2 linked regions of the Homo sapiens genome follow. The protein of the gene in region 1 purifies or fractionates together with the protein of each later gene. This does not show direct contact. Each region holds a gene or a part of one and is shown on either strand. Other genes may lie near its edges.

Evidence for each region. The genes of interacting proteins can lie anywhere in the genome.
Region 2: the proteins of CHST9 (region 1) and LRP5 purify together in Homo sapiens (affinity purification with mass spectrometry; 3 studies listed by BioGRID and IntAct, with this or other methods). This does not show direct contact.

Annotation. Positions count from the first base shown.
Region 1 is NC_000018.10:27,182,280-27,189,519, reverse strand, and holds the start of CHST9 (carbohydrate sulfotransferase 9), read left to right. Parts: upstream 1-4,211; 5' UTR 4,212-4,384; intron 4,385-7,240. UniProt on the Homo sapiens protein: Catalyzes the transfer of sulfate to position 4 of non-reducing N-acetylgalactosamine (GalNAc) residues in both N-glycans and O-glycans.
Region 2 is NC_000011.10:68,308,042-68,315,678, reverse strand, and holds the start of LRP5 (low-density lipoprotein receptor-related protein 5 isoform 1 precursor), read right to left. Parts: upstream 3,089-7,637; 5' UTR 2,965-3,088; coding exon 2,874-2,964; intron 2,231-2,873; exon of another isoform or gene 1-2,230. UniProt on the Homo sapiens protein: Acts as a coreceptor with members of the frizzled family of seven-transmembrane spanning receptors to transduce signal by Wnt proteins.

The DNA.
Region 1 (7,240 bases):
TCACACAATAATTTTGATCAACCCCAAATCATAAAATTTGCTATACCATGCTTGCTATGGCAGGAGGTAAATCATTATGTTTCCAGATCTCTCCTTGACTGGAAAATCTTAATGCTTTCTCCTTTTTCCTGTTTATTCCTGATGTTACAATGATTTCTTCTTAAATTTTAGAAAGGAATTTCTACTTTGTACAATGCCACATTCTGTATCCTATAGATCGACTTCTGGTAATCAGGCCTTTGTTTCTCTCTTGTATTCACATTTTTTTATTGTCAATTTCTTCTACTGAAGAAATCAGCCTTTTATTTCCTGATTAGAATTCACTTTAAATGTCACTACACAGATAAATCAATATGTGAAGGTGAAAATGACTTGAAGAGCTTTGTCAAGGTAAGTGTTCTATATCAGACGTTATGGGATTTTTGAAACCAGAAGGATCCTTAGGGCTTATGGAGTTCAATGACCTCATGCACTGCAGATGAGGAAACTGAGCCCAGGAAGAGAAGACTTGCCCAACTTAACGTGAACAAATCCTGTTCTCCAAGACTCTTTCTATTTCATAGCACTAATGCAAGGAAGCTTTCTAAAAGTGATTTTAAATTTTTAATAGTTGTTTTTATTTTTCTTCCCAGCAATATCTGGATACGGTGGGTTTTATCTTCTCTTTCAAGAGTTCTATTACTCTTTTCTTCTGGTTCAGTGGGCCGGCTTGTGTTCACTTGACCAGGAATCAACATAAATCGCATTCTATCATTTTTTTCTAGTTTTACTCGTATGCTGCAAAATAAAAGCAAGATAAGATAAAGGGAAACTACTGTAGCTACTGGACTATCCTCTATTGACTTGTGTAAAAATATCTCTTCCCAGATAAATAAAACCCTGCTTTCCCTCAAAAAATAGTTGGAGGCATAAATAAGAAGGTTCAGAGGTATTTGCAACACCCACATGACCTGGCATATTGTGCTAAATGCATTTCTGCTGAATTTTGACTTTGGCCATTAATTAAGCCAAGTCATCATTAACACCGGCATAATTAGAGAAAAGCATAAACTCAAAAATAGCAAGAAGTATCCCTTAGCAGTGTCATGCTGATACCTTAAATTAGTTTTGTTTTGTTTTGTTTTGTTTTTGTTTGTTTGTTTGTTTTTGGTACATAAGGAAACCAGGAAAATATCCTTTCTTACTCTTTTCCTACCTCTCTACCCCAGGTCACCTTACACACATTTTTCATCTCTATGAGCAGCTCACTGAAGTCATTCTTTATACTACTAGTTATACTTTCAAAGTTAAGTTTAACTTTATTGTTGTGCTTAGCCTAGCGGTATCAGCATTGTATGCCTTTTCCAAATAAACCTGAGAATGATGAAGTCTTCCTTCTATGAAGGCACTTTTGCTATTGAATGTACCTTGAGATTTGATGCAGAAACCACGTTTATGGACCATAATTGTTACCAACCTATTCATTAAAGGATCAACAATACATAAGCTTCACACTTGCCCAGAAACAGTCAATAGTTAAACATTTTAAGAAATTGAAAGAACTAAACAAAATTAATAGACTGGAGAGTTTAGAAACATGCTGTTAATCAATGTTTTAGAAATAATTCACTGTGTAAAATTAAATTAGTTTAACTACAAAATTAAAAGGTAATATTTTCACATAACAATATAACTCCCAATCAAATGGCATGAGAACATGCATCTTATACTGGTGCTTGGTATACATTTTAGGTAATTTTTTGATCCTTTATTCATCAACCTTGGATATTAACAATATTCAATTTTCTATAATAGTAATTCTTCAAATTTTTAAAATCAGTTTTAAACAGAGGTCTAGGAATGAAAGACAGCCACAGTTCTAAATATTTGATTTGCTGTGATAGATAAGTGAATAAAATAGATTCTAAAGACTGGAAACCCCATAATGGACTAGCAATGCCTAGTAGCTCATCAATCAAGCAAATTCAATAAGTTGATCTGATCATGCCCAATTCCCCCGTTAGCTACTAAAACTTTTCAATTTATGCCCATTTTAAGCATAGAACTATATTCAAATACAGTTCTAATGATATTCTTGCTCAACTTCTGAAAGGCACAGGCTAAAAAATTTGCATGTTTTGCAACAGCCTAGAAGTAGAGTTCATGTATTATCAGGTTGGCCTGAATTTCCTCACTGCTGTGATATAATGGATAGTACCAACTCCAAGAATTCATAGAACATGGATGGATACACAGGGAACCAAACCAAGAGCGAGTAAGTTAAATGGTTAGTTCATTCAAGGAGCGCTCATCAATTGCCTACCAGGCATGTGTCAGTTAAATACAGCTCAGGGAACACTAGCTTGTTTCTTTCAACTCAGGAAACATTTATTCTATTGGAGAATGAGGATTTTCCCCATATGAAGGACTGACTCTGGGTTAAAAGTTAATAACAAATCAGCAAGTTGTATTACAATGGTTTGCTTGTGGAATGATTTGTTTACTCTTTTTCAATTTTCCAAATTTTCAATAGTGTGTTTATATGGCATTGATAACTTTAAAACTCCTTTACAATTAAGCTGAAATAAAAAGAAATCTATAAAACAAAAAAACCCCAGCAAATATACAAATTTTAAAAATTAAACTCTTATGTCTATTCAAGTCCTTTGCCCATTTGTATCAGGTTATTTGACTTTTTGTTGCTGAGTTATAGGAGCTCTTTATATATTCTGGATATTAATCATATCAGAGATCTAACATTGTCAAATTCATAGAAGCAAAAGGTAGGATGGTAATTACCAAGTGCTAGAGGGGAGAGGAAAAGGGGGAGCTGTTTGATGGACAAAGTTTCAGGTTTGCAAGATGAAGAAATTCTGAAGATCTATTTTAAAGCAATGTGACTGTATGTTAACACTACTGAACTGTACATTAAAAATGATAAAAATGTGGTGTTTACCCCAATTTTTAAAAATGCATGAAAATAAAACACTTGTGACAGAATAATAAATCAGCTTCTGTTTAAAAAGAAACCTGCATCAGGCAAACAAGTCCTATAATGGTAATTCTTCAAAGAACCAAAGTTCACTACTACCAGATGTGTTATTACTAAACCATTAATAAGAATAAGACCTACTGGAAGTGCATAAGGCTAATATTTCAGTTTCAGCAAAAGCAACAACAAAATTCTAATGTCGTAATAAGGTAGGTTTAACTAGTTAATGCTTTTAAAAAAATAGTTGAGTTTTTCTTTGTTAATTTATAGAAATCATCTGAATGCAAAATAAGCAATCAAGGATTCATTTATTTTTATTTGCCCTAGTTTGGTCAAATTGTTGATAGAATAATGTTTAGAACTAATTTTTAAACCTGAATGAACCATTTTTATTTTTTCTTTTCTCTCTCTTTCTTTCTTTCAAGACAAGGTCTTGCTCTGTTGCCCAGGCTGGAGGGCAGTGGCAGGATCAGAGCTCACTGCAGCCTTTTACTCCTAGCTTCAAGTGATCCTCCCGCCTGGGCCTCCCAAAGCCTGGTGTTTCCTTTAATGATTTAAAAATGTTATTCTAGTGTTGGTCTTTGCAAAGCCCTTTAAAACCGCCAACTTCAGCTTGTTCGATTTTGAAATGCGTGGCCTGAGAAATCTCCTAGGTCTTGAACATTATAAATGGGTACTATGCTCATTTTGAGGGAGCCCTGGTTTACACAAACCTGCTGCTGAACTTAGCCGTACTTACAACAAGCACTTTATTGATCTATTATAATTGATGTATTAAAATAAACAAACGAACATCACCTCCTGTCTGTAAAGCAAAACACATTTTGACTTTGGAGTTAACGTTTGCGACAGCCTTCTAACCTATGGACGTGTTCCTCAGAACTGGGTTTCTAGAAAAGCTAGGAGAAGACCCCAGCGCAGGGGAGAGGAGAGGGCGAATTGGGAAAGAACTGCTAGGGTAATCACTTCCTCGACTGGGCATGGGGTGGCACCTGAGCCCTGGCACGCGGGGCTGGGAGGGCGAGTCGCCAGCGGAGGCGAGGCCAGAAAGTCAGAGGAAAGAGGGGACCAGAGAGCCACAAAGGCAGAGCTGGAGAAGGCAGGGCGGGCAGCGGGGGCGAGGGAGAGAAAAAGAGGGAGGCGGAGCTGCCCGGGCGGGCGGGGGCGGGGGCGCGGGCGGGAGCGGGCGCGGAGGCGGCGCCGCAGCCCCAGCCGGGCCGGACGCGGGAGGGTCAGGGCCAGGGTGAGCGCCCGACTCCGAGCTGTCCCCGCTCCCGGCGCGGCGCTCCGCTCTCAGCCACCTCACGGCTGCCAGGAGTGCGCGGGAGTTTGCCCCGGAGCGCGGGGAAGTTTCCTCCGAAGCTGCGCTCCTGGAACAGCAGCACCTGCAAGCGCCCGGCAGCGGCCCGCGAGGTAACCGCGCTGGGGCTGGGGTTGGGGCTGGGGGGCACTGGAGGGGCAGAGATGATGGCGCGCTGCTGGGTACCCGCGCCGGGAGCGGGCTCTGGTGGGCGGGGACGTGCGCCCTCACCTTTCCAGGTGCTTCGCCGCTGGAGATGCGGGAGGCTTCTTCCTTTTTCTATCTCCCCTACCTCCAGTATTCCAACCCACTTCCCTTCACTTCAGTGGACGCATGGCGGGAGGTGGGGGGCGGGAGCAGGAGGGGATCCTGACTTTGAGGGGGCGCTGGAGAAGGACGGCCGCCTGAACTTGTCAGCTACCTGAGTTTCCTTCCTGCGCCCCGGCGGGGCACCCTGGACTCCAGGATTCCGGGGTCAGACCCCTCTTGGGGCATGCAGAGGTTGGAAAGAGGACGGCAGGAACAGTCTTTAGTTTCTGCTGCCAGTCTGTCGGGTCCTCCAGGGTGTGTGGCAGAAAGACGAGCATCTCTGCTGCGGGGGTGCCTCCTTTGCGTCAGTCTCAAACTCCGCGACCTGGCTCAGGCTCAGGCGCAGGCTGCGGGAGAGGTGGGAGGGAAGTTAGGGGGACCGGGAGGCCAGGTGCGATCGTGGCCAGAGCAGAGGGGTTGGGAGGGGCGATCTGAGGAGGGGCTCCAAGTGGGTTGCGGGGAGAAGGAATGGTGTGTTTGTTTCTGCTGCTGTTACTTTCACAGGGTTGCCTGCTCCCTCTTCTGCCCCGTTTGAACATCCTGCCTATCAGCATGTTTCTGTTAGAAGGTGTTATGGTTGATGTCTGTCAGGAGTTATTTCCAACTAAGTTCACAGGTGCTAAGTCTAGAGCTGCAGGCCTTCCTCCTTTCTCTCTCTCTGCGGTCCACCCCCAGCTCCCTCCCACAAACATACTGTGCCTGAATAATCCCCAGCGTTTTGAAAGCGATGGCAAGTGAATAATACACAATGTGTGTGTGTGACTTTTTTCTCCCTATTATGCTATCAGATCCAAATCAAAACGCCGTGGATGCTTAACAGGACTCCCTTTTCGCAGTTTTTCTGATAATTGAGAGTATTACCAATGTTTATTTTTCTTCGCTTTAACCTCAGAATTGCATTAATCTATCTTTGTACAATTTTATTTACATTGTTATTATTCCTCTCGGTTTGAAGGACAGGGGCCTCTTTTCAACTCACATATACACATCCAAATGCATTGTGACCATATTTAGTATTTATCTGTCTTCTGATTCAGTTGGCTGGCACCTGTTAATTCCAGTACCTAATCATAACACCATATGCCTGCCAACCAACGTGAGGATAAGGTGAATGCTATTGTTTTTCATGGGCAAGAGCACCCTGAACTACCACTTTTTATTATTGCTCAAAGGGTGTAAGAGCTTCAATCAAAGTGAATCAAATTTACAAAACAATATTACAATTCTACACCATACGATCAAACAGTATGATTCCTAGGCACTTACAGCTGACTAGTAATTGAGGAAAAATTAAAATCCTCTCATCATATGGAAAACATTTAGATTGCATATCGTCAATAAGAAATAGCACACACTGAATGCCCCCAGAAAACGAGAAGAATGTTCCTCTTACCTCATTTGGTTTTTATCCCCTTCATTACAGTACCGTCCTCCAGAAAATGAGCACCTTGCATATAGATGTTGGTATGTACTAACTAAACACCATATTTTTTAATACAGAGGCTTGGTGATAGTCCAAAAACATAAATGTTTTAAATCATTACCAACCATCTGTTCTCTCCCACTCACTTACAGCACAATGTTTTATTTTCACAGGTATCAAAACGTACTTACTCATTTCATACATTCCCATGACTATCCTGAAAGCTGTAATGGTATCCAATGTTGACTCAAGTTCAGTAACTGTTGTGTTTGGCTTATTACACCATAAGCTCTGCTTCTTTTATTTTCAATGAAAGAAGACATTCTAAAAGTTTCAAAGCACTTGGCCAAGGCTGGTGTATACTCCAGTAAAAATCTGATTGCTTTCCCCCCACCCCCCACCTTTTTGTTAACAGAGAGAAGCTAGAAATTAGTGCAGCTGCAGGGCCCTCCTGATGACCTTCTTTTCCTTTCTTCCTGGTCACAAGGGTAGCATTTGATGCTCTGAAGAAGTGCATTAAAAAGCCCTGTGACTTCAGAAACTTAGTATGGTTTCCAGGAGAATGTAACATCTTCCAAGGAAGAATTTACAAAATAAGAGACTAACTTACTCTTACAAATTCCAAATTCAGTAAACCTAAGAAATACACATTGTTTCCCACATCAGTATTGCATATGAATAGCATAGGATGTGAGATAGGATATGAATAACATGTTTACCTGTTATTATATACTTTATATTTGTATTTGGGAATCTGGATGAGTTGGGATGTAATCAGCAGATAGATTCACACTCTTTGTTTGGTTGATGTCATCAATAAAGCAAGATTTGAGATATTCAGTTCCCTATCCAAGAAAGATTTCCCATTTAGGGGTGTTTGCTCTAATTAGAGCTTCAATATTACGGTATTTTATCATTCCAAATTAAGTTACATAATACATCCTTTGTTCCTTTAGCCTAGCCAGCACATTAGGAAAATTCTTTTCACTCAAATATGGGTGCAATGTCCCAAAGCATTTTCATATTTTTTGAGGAAAAAGATAGTGATGATCTTTTTCACACTTTGCAAATAATTGATGTGTACTTGAAGATTATCAGGAACCAAGAAAAAGTGGGCCATTATCACCAGCTACAGTGTTCTATACTGCTCTTTTCCCTGAAAGCGTTAAGATTCTCCTAACTTAGAAGAATGGCTTTGGACAGAATAAACCCAAACTACAGATAATTTTGAAAGTAA
Region 2 (7,637 bases), on another chromosome or scaffold:
CTTATCTGCCATTCTATCGCACTCAACCCTAGCACTTCACTCGGTAGCAGACACCAAAGCAAAACAGCAACAGCATTATACCGGGCCAGGTGCACGTTAACTCACTGAATTCATGGTAGGAAGGATTCTATTCCCATTTTACAGGTGAGAAAACTGAGGCACACAAAGGTAGCATCAGCTTCCTAAGCCTCCCAGCACAGGAAGCGGCCAGGCTGGAATCAGACCCTGGGCGCAGGGGCTCTGTCCACAGTGCTAACTAACTACTCCTGCCCCCGAGGGCTGCAGCGGTGAGTGAGTGAGTTTGTCAGTGGACTGGATGTCCAAGGTCATACAGGAAAAATCCAGACTATTGTAATAACAGCCTCTAGACCGGCTGGGGCCAGAAAGATCGAGGACGCTGACACACAACTGCGCTCACTGCAGCTCTGCCAGGGATGGGGCTAAAGGTCTCACACAGGGCAGTTAGGGCTCCCCATAGCCTGGGAGAGGAACGGGGTGAGATAACAGAAACTAGGTATGGTGCCCGAAGTCAAACAGCCACTGAGCATGTAAACCCAGGTGGGTCTGACCCCAAACCCCTCCACCCCCATCAGCCCTGCAACCCGTCGCTGCAAGGGAGAAAGCAACTCAGAGGCCTCACCTGCCTACATCCCCCACCCGTGTGTGTGAGTTCTACTAAATGCCTGAGCAGTGACACAGCACGGCTGAAATTAAACGGGTTCCAAAAACGACAGGAAGCACGAGGTGAATCTCCCCAGGAAAGTGCTGAACAAATGCTGGATCGGGTTCACCGGCGAATTTCTTGGAACTGAAGAGGGGAGCTAAACACACGGGGCCCTGCTTTGGAGGGGACTCTCTCAGGGTGCTCCACACAGCACTTGGTTAACCCCACTCAGCCCTTCTGGGCTCTCCCAGAGGGCCCGGCCTTGGCCTTGGGCATCTACAGGAGGAACCTCCAGGGGGAGAGGGGGTGCCTGGACAGGCCGGCCCTGGAACAAGCACTTGGGCCCCGAGGAGAGAGGACTAGGGCTTGGGAGCTGGGGAAGTTCTCAGCACTGGGACCACTAGAACAAAGCCATTTCCGTGCGTTCACAGCTTCCAATTGCAACAGGAAGCAATCAGGAAAAATAATTAGCGGCCCACTTACTGGCTTCGCTGAGGTCCGAGGCATGTATTTCACACAGTAAAACCAGGGATATAACATCAAAACCGTTCTGCAGAAAGATTCCTCCCTTTCCTTCCATTTTAGGCCTGGATCACCACATTCACTGGGGCTCCCAGGCCTTGCTGCCTAATGTTAAAATAATCAACTCTATTTTTGCCTCACACACAACTGAACTCTACAGCTATAATTCTTTCTCCTCAGGGGCTCGAACCACATGGACGACAGGCATTTGACTCCAGCAACATCACCCCAAAACGTGCACAAAACCCAAAACTGCAATGAGGTGAAAGGCAACGCGGTCGGCCTAGAAACCCCCCCTTTAAAACAAACAGTTTCCCCAAAACCCCTTTTGCCTCCTTGACCCAGGCATTTCCGGAAAAAGGAGCGGCGCTGGCCTGTACTCCCCAGATACTGTCGCTGTTTTGTCTTCACCTTGTTTTGCTAGCTCCAGACAAGGCCCCACAATGTAAACACGCTCCTGAAAGAGGCAGATTTGGGGTGAAACTGTCCATAGAATCTCTAGGCTTGGGTCAGAGGCAGGAGGACGTGAAACAAACTCCAAGCTCCTCCTGTTCCCCGCTGTCCCCCACACCTCCAAGCAGAGGCTGCAGCCTGGGGGATCTGACTACAGGGCCACCCCGCTGCACCATTCACACTGGAAATATTCAGGGAGACAGCTGTTTGCCTTAAGGAGGCCCAGACAAAGGGGCCCGAGGTCCTCCCCGCTAAACTGCCACAAACAGAACAGGAGCCGCGGCGTGCACAGGCACTTGCGGCCGTGCCACTTGGCCAGCCATACTCCAGAAAAACAAAACACGCACATCCGAAGAGAATGATTTAGGTAGCAAGAGGCTTGCTTGAAAAACCACATGGCAATCTCCAAATTAAAAGAACATGTGTAGCGTTTCACGACTGCTTAAGTTTCCTGAGTCCTCCTGACCTCAACTCCACCCCCTGGGAAACACCAAAAGTTGGAGAGAAAGTTCCCCCGCCCTACCTCTCCCCACGGGAGTGTACAACTGAGGCACAAGCCTGCCTCCCCCACTGCCCCGCGATCTGGGACCACGTCACCTCCGCGTAGCCGACCCGGGGATGGACACTATCTGGGGACCCGGCGGCCACACGGGGCATTCGGGTCGCCCGGGCACCTGGCAGGTGTCAGTCCGCTTGGAAACCCACAGCCACGCGGCTCACAGGAGCAGCGCCACCGGCCAGGCCGCCCCGCGCCCGGGCTCAGAACTTTCTCGCTGCAACTTCAGCCCGTCCTCGGAGCACGCGGGGCGGCCGCGCGGCCGCTGGAAACAGGCTTGCGAACCGGCTCCCCGGGCCAGGCCCGCCTCCGCGCCCCAAGTCCCCGCTCGGTGCCCGGCCCGGGCCACACGGGCCCAGCGCGGGCTCGGCTCGGCTCCCGGCTTCCCGCGGGCTCGGGCAGGTGAGGACCCGCCCGCGCCGCACCTGGCGGAGCGGGCGCCCTCCTCGCCAGCCCGGGACGCAGCGTCCCCGGGGAGGGCCCGGGTGGGGAGACAAAGGGCCCGCGCGTGGCGGGGACGCCGGGGACGGCAGGGGGATCCCGGGCGCGCGCCCCAACTCGCTCCCAACTCGCCAAGTCGCTTCCGAGACGGCGGCGGCGCCCGCGCACTTGGCCGCGGGGCCGCCCGGGCCATTGTCCGAGCAACCCGCGGCCCCCGGCCGGCCTGCGCCCACCTACCCGCGGCGGGGGCCGGGCAGCCGCACAGCGCCAGCAGCAGCAGCAGCAGCAGCAGCAGCGGCCACGGCGGCCCGGGCGGCGCTGCCTCCATGTTGTCCGGCGGCCGGACGGGCCCGCGCCGCGCTCACTCGGGCTCCATGGCGCGGCGGCGGCGGCTCCTCGCGCGGCTCCCGGCGCCTCCGCCTCCCCCCTCGGGCGCCGCGGACCAGGACGACGGGGAGGAGGGAGCTGGGCGCGCGGGAGCGGAAGCCGCGCCGCGTCTCCGCCCCCCGCCGCCGCCACCCGCGCCCCCCGCACCGGCCGCGCCCTCCCGCGGGCGCCCCCCGGAGCCGGCCGGCGGCCAGGCGGCCCCAGCGGCGCAGGTCCCCGCGGCCCCTCCCCGCGCTCCCCGCCCTGCCCTGGAGGTGCCTCCGGGAGGCTTGGCGCGGGGTTTCCGCCCCGCGGGGCCCGGCGGCCGATCGGGGCCCGGAGCCAGGTGTGTCACCTGTGGAGCCTCTATGAGTGGGGAAACTGAGGCACGGAGCAGGGCGGGGTTGCCCAAGGGCACACAGCGAGGCAGTTTCAGGGCGGGCAGCCTGGGGCCCCACGGGGCGGCCCCGGACACTTGTTCTCACCTGTGGAGGGCAGAGAAGGGAACAGGGAGAGAAGTGGCCGGCTGGGAGTGGAGGTGGGTTTGAGGTTTTACTGTAAACTAAATGTGTACCCTCTACCTTAGTTATGAATTATGAGACACGAAGACTGCGAAACAGACACACTCCTCTAAAAGTGCCTCTAGGCTGACAGGGAGAAAGTCCCGCCAGGCTCCCAGACGCCACCTTTGAGTCCTTCAACAAGCCCGCCAGGGCCTCTTGCCCACCGGTGTCAGCTCAGCCACTGAACCCTCCAGGAAGAAGACGTGCTGGTAGGAGAAGAATCTCACCCAGGCACAGCCTGGAAGGGGCACAGAAGGGGCTCTGGAACCAGCAAGCCCAAGTTGGAACTCCCAGTCTGCTACTTTCTAGAACGACTGTGCCCTTGGCGGGTCTAAGTAGAACCTCTCCGCGCACTCTTTCCTCCTTTGTAAAGTGGGGACAGCAATGGCCACCTTGCAGGTTCAGAGAGGGCTTGCAGTACCTCACAGAACTGAGTGCCCGTGAACGTGTGTGTTCCTCCAGATTTGTGACAGCTTTGCCAGGCTGGAGTCAGGCTGAACGCCTCTGCCCTCATGGGGTTTATATTCTAGGAAGACCAACAAAAACAAGAAGACGGAAAATTAAAACAACAAAAGCCCCATTGACAGGCCATGAAGAATGCCATGAGAAATGAAGGGCGTTGTGCTGCAGTGTTTGGGGAAACTGGCTTAGGGAAGGAAGGACACTTGAGCTGCTACCAAGGAGCAGCCGTCCGGTGGGAGGGCAGTTCAGGAAGAGCAGACATCCACGGAGGAGGCGCTGGGGCAGAGGGCAGCCTGGTCGCTGGATTCGGGGGAGGAACCACATCAGGCCATGAGCTGGAGCTGGTGGTAGAAGGTACAGGAGAGGCCAGCCAGGGCCAGCACATGTCAGACCTCAGGCGGGGAAGAGGAATCGAGAATGCACCCCACGAGCAATGGGAAGCCAGGCTAGGATTTAAGCAGCAAAAATATTTTCCCTTCTTCCACCCTGCATCCAGCTCTACCAGCACAGCCTGGGGTTCTATTTTCAAGATAGAAGAGACCCAGACTCCCAGCTCTTCTTACACTTCTACTACTGCCACCTGTCACCCACTCATGCGTCCCCACTTGCAGCCTCGACCCCCTTCCACCTGATCTCATGGCAGCCAGGGAAGCTCCAGGGCTCGTGAGGGCTGCCATCTCAGGAAAGAAGCAAAAGCCTTCGGCACCTGCAGGGCCTGCTCCAACCACACTTCTTCCTTGACCTCTCAGCTTCCTTAGCCACTCCCTTCCCACATCTCACCCTGCTCCAGCCACAGTGGTGTCTCTGTGGGTTCTCAAACACACCAGGTGCACTCCTGCCTCAGGGCCTTTGTGCTTGCTGTTCTCTGCTGGGACTCTTTTTTTTTTTTTTTTTTTTGAGACAGGGTCTCACTCTGTGGCCCAGGCTGGAGTGTAGTGGTGTGATCGTAGCTCATTGCAACCTCAAACTCCTGGGCTCAAGCAATCCTCCCACCTCAGCCTCTCAAGTAGTTAGCTTTTGTTGTTTTGTTTTGAGATGGGATCTCACTCTGTTGCCCAGGCTGGAGTGCAGTGGGGCAATCTTGGCTCACCACAACCTCTGCCTCCCAGGCTCAAGCAATTCTCCTGCCTCAGCCTCCCAAGTAGCTGGGATTACAGGCATGTGCCACCACGCCCAGCTTATTTTTGTATTTTTAGTAGAGACAGGGTTTCACCATGTTGGTCTGGCTGGTCTTGAACTCCTGGCCTCAGATGATCCACCTGCCTCGGCCTCCCAAAGTGCTGGGATGACAGGCATGAGCCTGTCTCTAGTAGTTAGGACTACAGAGAGGGGCCATCATGCCTGGTGATCCTCCCACCTTTTCTGCTCCAACTCTTTCACCCCACTTAGCCTCGTGGCTCACTCTCTTACCTCTTCAGCTCCTCAGTCAGGCCTGAGGACCCCTGTTGAAAATTGCAAACCACACCCCCCACCACCACCACCCACTATTGCCAGCACTTTCTACTCCATTTCTCTGCTTTACTTTTCTCCTTTGTACTCATCACCACCTGACTCATTACATGTTTACGTATCTTTCTTCTCTCCACTAGCATGGAAGCTCCAGGAGAGCAGAGAGTGTAGTTTTATTCCCTGATGTGTTTCCTGTGCCCGTACCAGGGCCTAGCACACAGTAGGTGCTCAGTAAATGTGTGTTGGATGAACAAATACAGTGAAAGGATCTGATCTACATTTATAAAGAAGGCACTCTGGCTGCTGAGTGGGGATGAGACTGTCAGGAGGAAAGAGGCCCCTGTGGGGGCCTGGCCAGCAGGTGGGTACAATGGTAGCAGCCAGGAGAGAGGGCCTCTTGGACTCAAGTGGATGGGGCCTGCTCAGGGCTCCAGCCACAGGAACAAAGGGAAGGGGGCCCAGGATGGCCTGTCATAGAGGACACATTACAACTGGCCCAAAGTTCAAGTCAGGTTTCTAAATTTGGGAAGGGATACAGAAAAACTAAAGACTCTACTGGACAGTCAGTTATTGAAATGATTACATAGAAAATGTACCAAGAATTAAAAAAAAAAAAAAAAAAGCATTATGAAGGGGCCACCAGAGACTCCCAGAGAGGAAAGGGACTATGGGCTGGATGCGGTGACTCACACCTATAATCCCAGCACTTTGGGAGGCCGAGGAGGGTGGATCACGAGGTCAGGAGTTCAAGACCAGCCTAGGCAACATGGTAAAACCCCCGTTTCTACTAAAAATACAAAAAATTAGCTGGGCATGGCAGCATGTGCCTGTAATCCCAGCTACTCGGGAGGCTGAGGCAGGAGAGTTGCTAGAACCCAGGAGGCAGAGGTTGCAGTGAGCCGAGATTGAGCCACTATGCTCCAGCTTGGGCGACAGAGCAAGACTCCGTCTCTAAAAAAAAGAAAAAAAAGGCCAGATGAGGTGGCTCATGCCTGTAATCCCAGCACTTTGGGAGGCCGAGGTGGGTGGATCACGAGGTCAGGAGATCGAGACCATCCTGGCTAACATGGTGAAACTCCATCTCTACTTAAAATACAAAAAATTAGCCGGGCGTGGTGGCGGGCACCTGTAGTCCCAGCTACTTGGGAGGCTGAGGCAGGAGAATGGCGTGAACCTGGGAGGCGGAGCTTGCAGTGAGCCGAGATTGCGCCACTGCACTCCATCCAGCCTGGGCGACAGAGTTAGACTCCGTCTCAAAAAAAAAAAAAAAAAAAAAAAATTAGCTGATTAGTTGGGCTTGGTGGCGGGCGCCTGTAATCCCAACTACTCGGGAGGCTGAGGCGGGAGAATCACTTGAACCCGGGAGGCAGAGGTTGCAATGAGCCGATATCACGCCACTACACTCCAGCCTGGGCGACAGAGCAAGACTCCATCTCAAAAAAGAAAAAAAAAAAGAAAGGGGCTGTGCTGTGGCCTGGGACCCAAAGCACACTACTGCAAGGTCCCAGGGTGCCTGACTCCAACCGGAGCCTTGAGAACATTCATTTGCAAAGAATGAATTAAAATTCAGCACTATTTTATTCTGCAGGATTCCAGCACCCCAAGGACAGTCATTTTTAGACCCTTCAGTAACGTAATAAGTAACCGGAGGATGTGCTGAGCTTCCACTTCCCCAGACGGTTGCCTGTCACAGCTCATCAGGCCAACAAACTTTTCTTAGGCCTCAAATTTGGAAATGTTCACTCTCAGTTCGTTCCTTAGATGCAAGTCCATCCCAATGAAGTAACAGGGGCTCAGCACCTGTCCAATCTCATTGCTTCCGGGGACAGGGGCCCATGAGGATGTCGTTTCAGCCCGGTGACACTTGGGCAAAGTGCCTTTTGGTTTCCCTCCCAGGCTGGAACGTGCTGGCTCTGTGAAGTTACGCTGGGCACAAGAGCCCCCCCCAACCCGGCAGGACTGACTGCTGTGGTCAGAGGCGCCCCTGGGGCTTTGGGAGCCACAGAATCTTCCTGAGGGCAGCGCCGGAGGAGGCCCCAGTGAGAGTGCCCACTGCCAGGCTCATTCCTCAGGCTGCCGCAGGCCTCTCCCCAAAACAGGCAATGCTTCTCAGCAACCTGCCCCAGGAGCAGGCCAGGGAAGGCCGCCATCGGCCTACAGT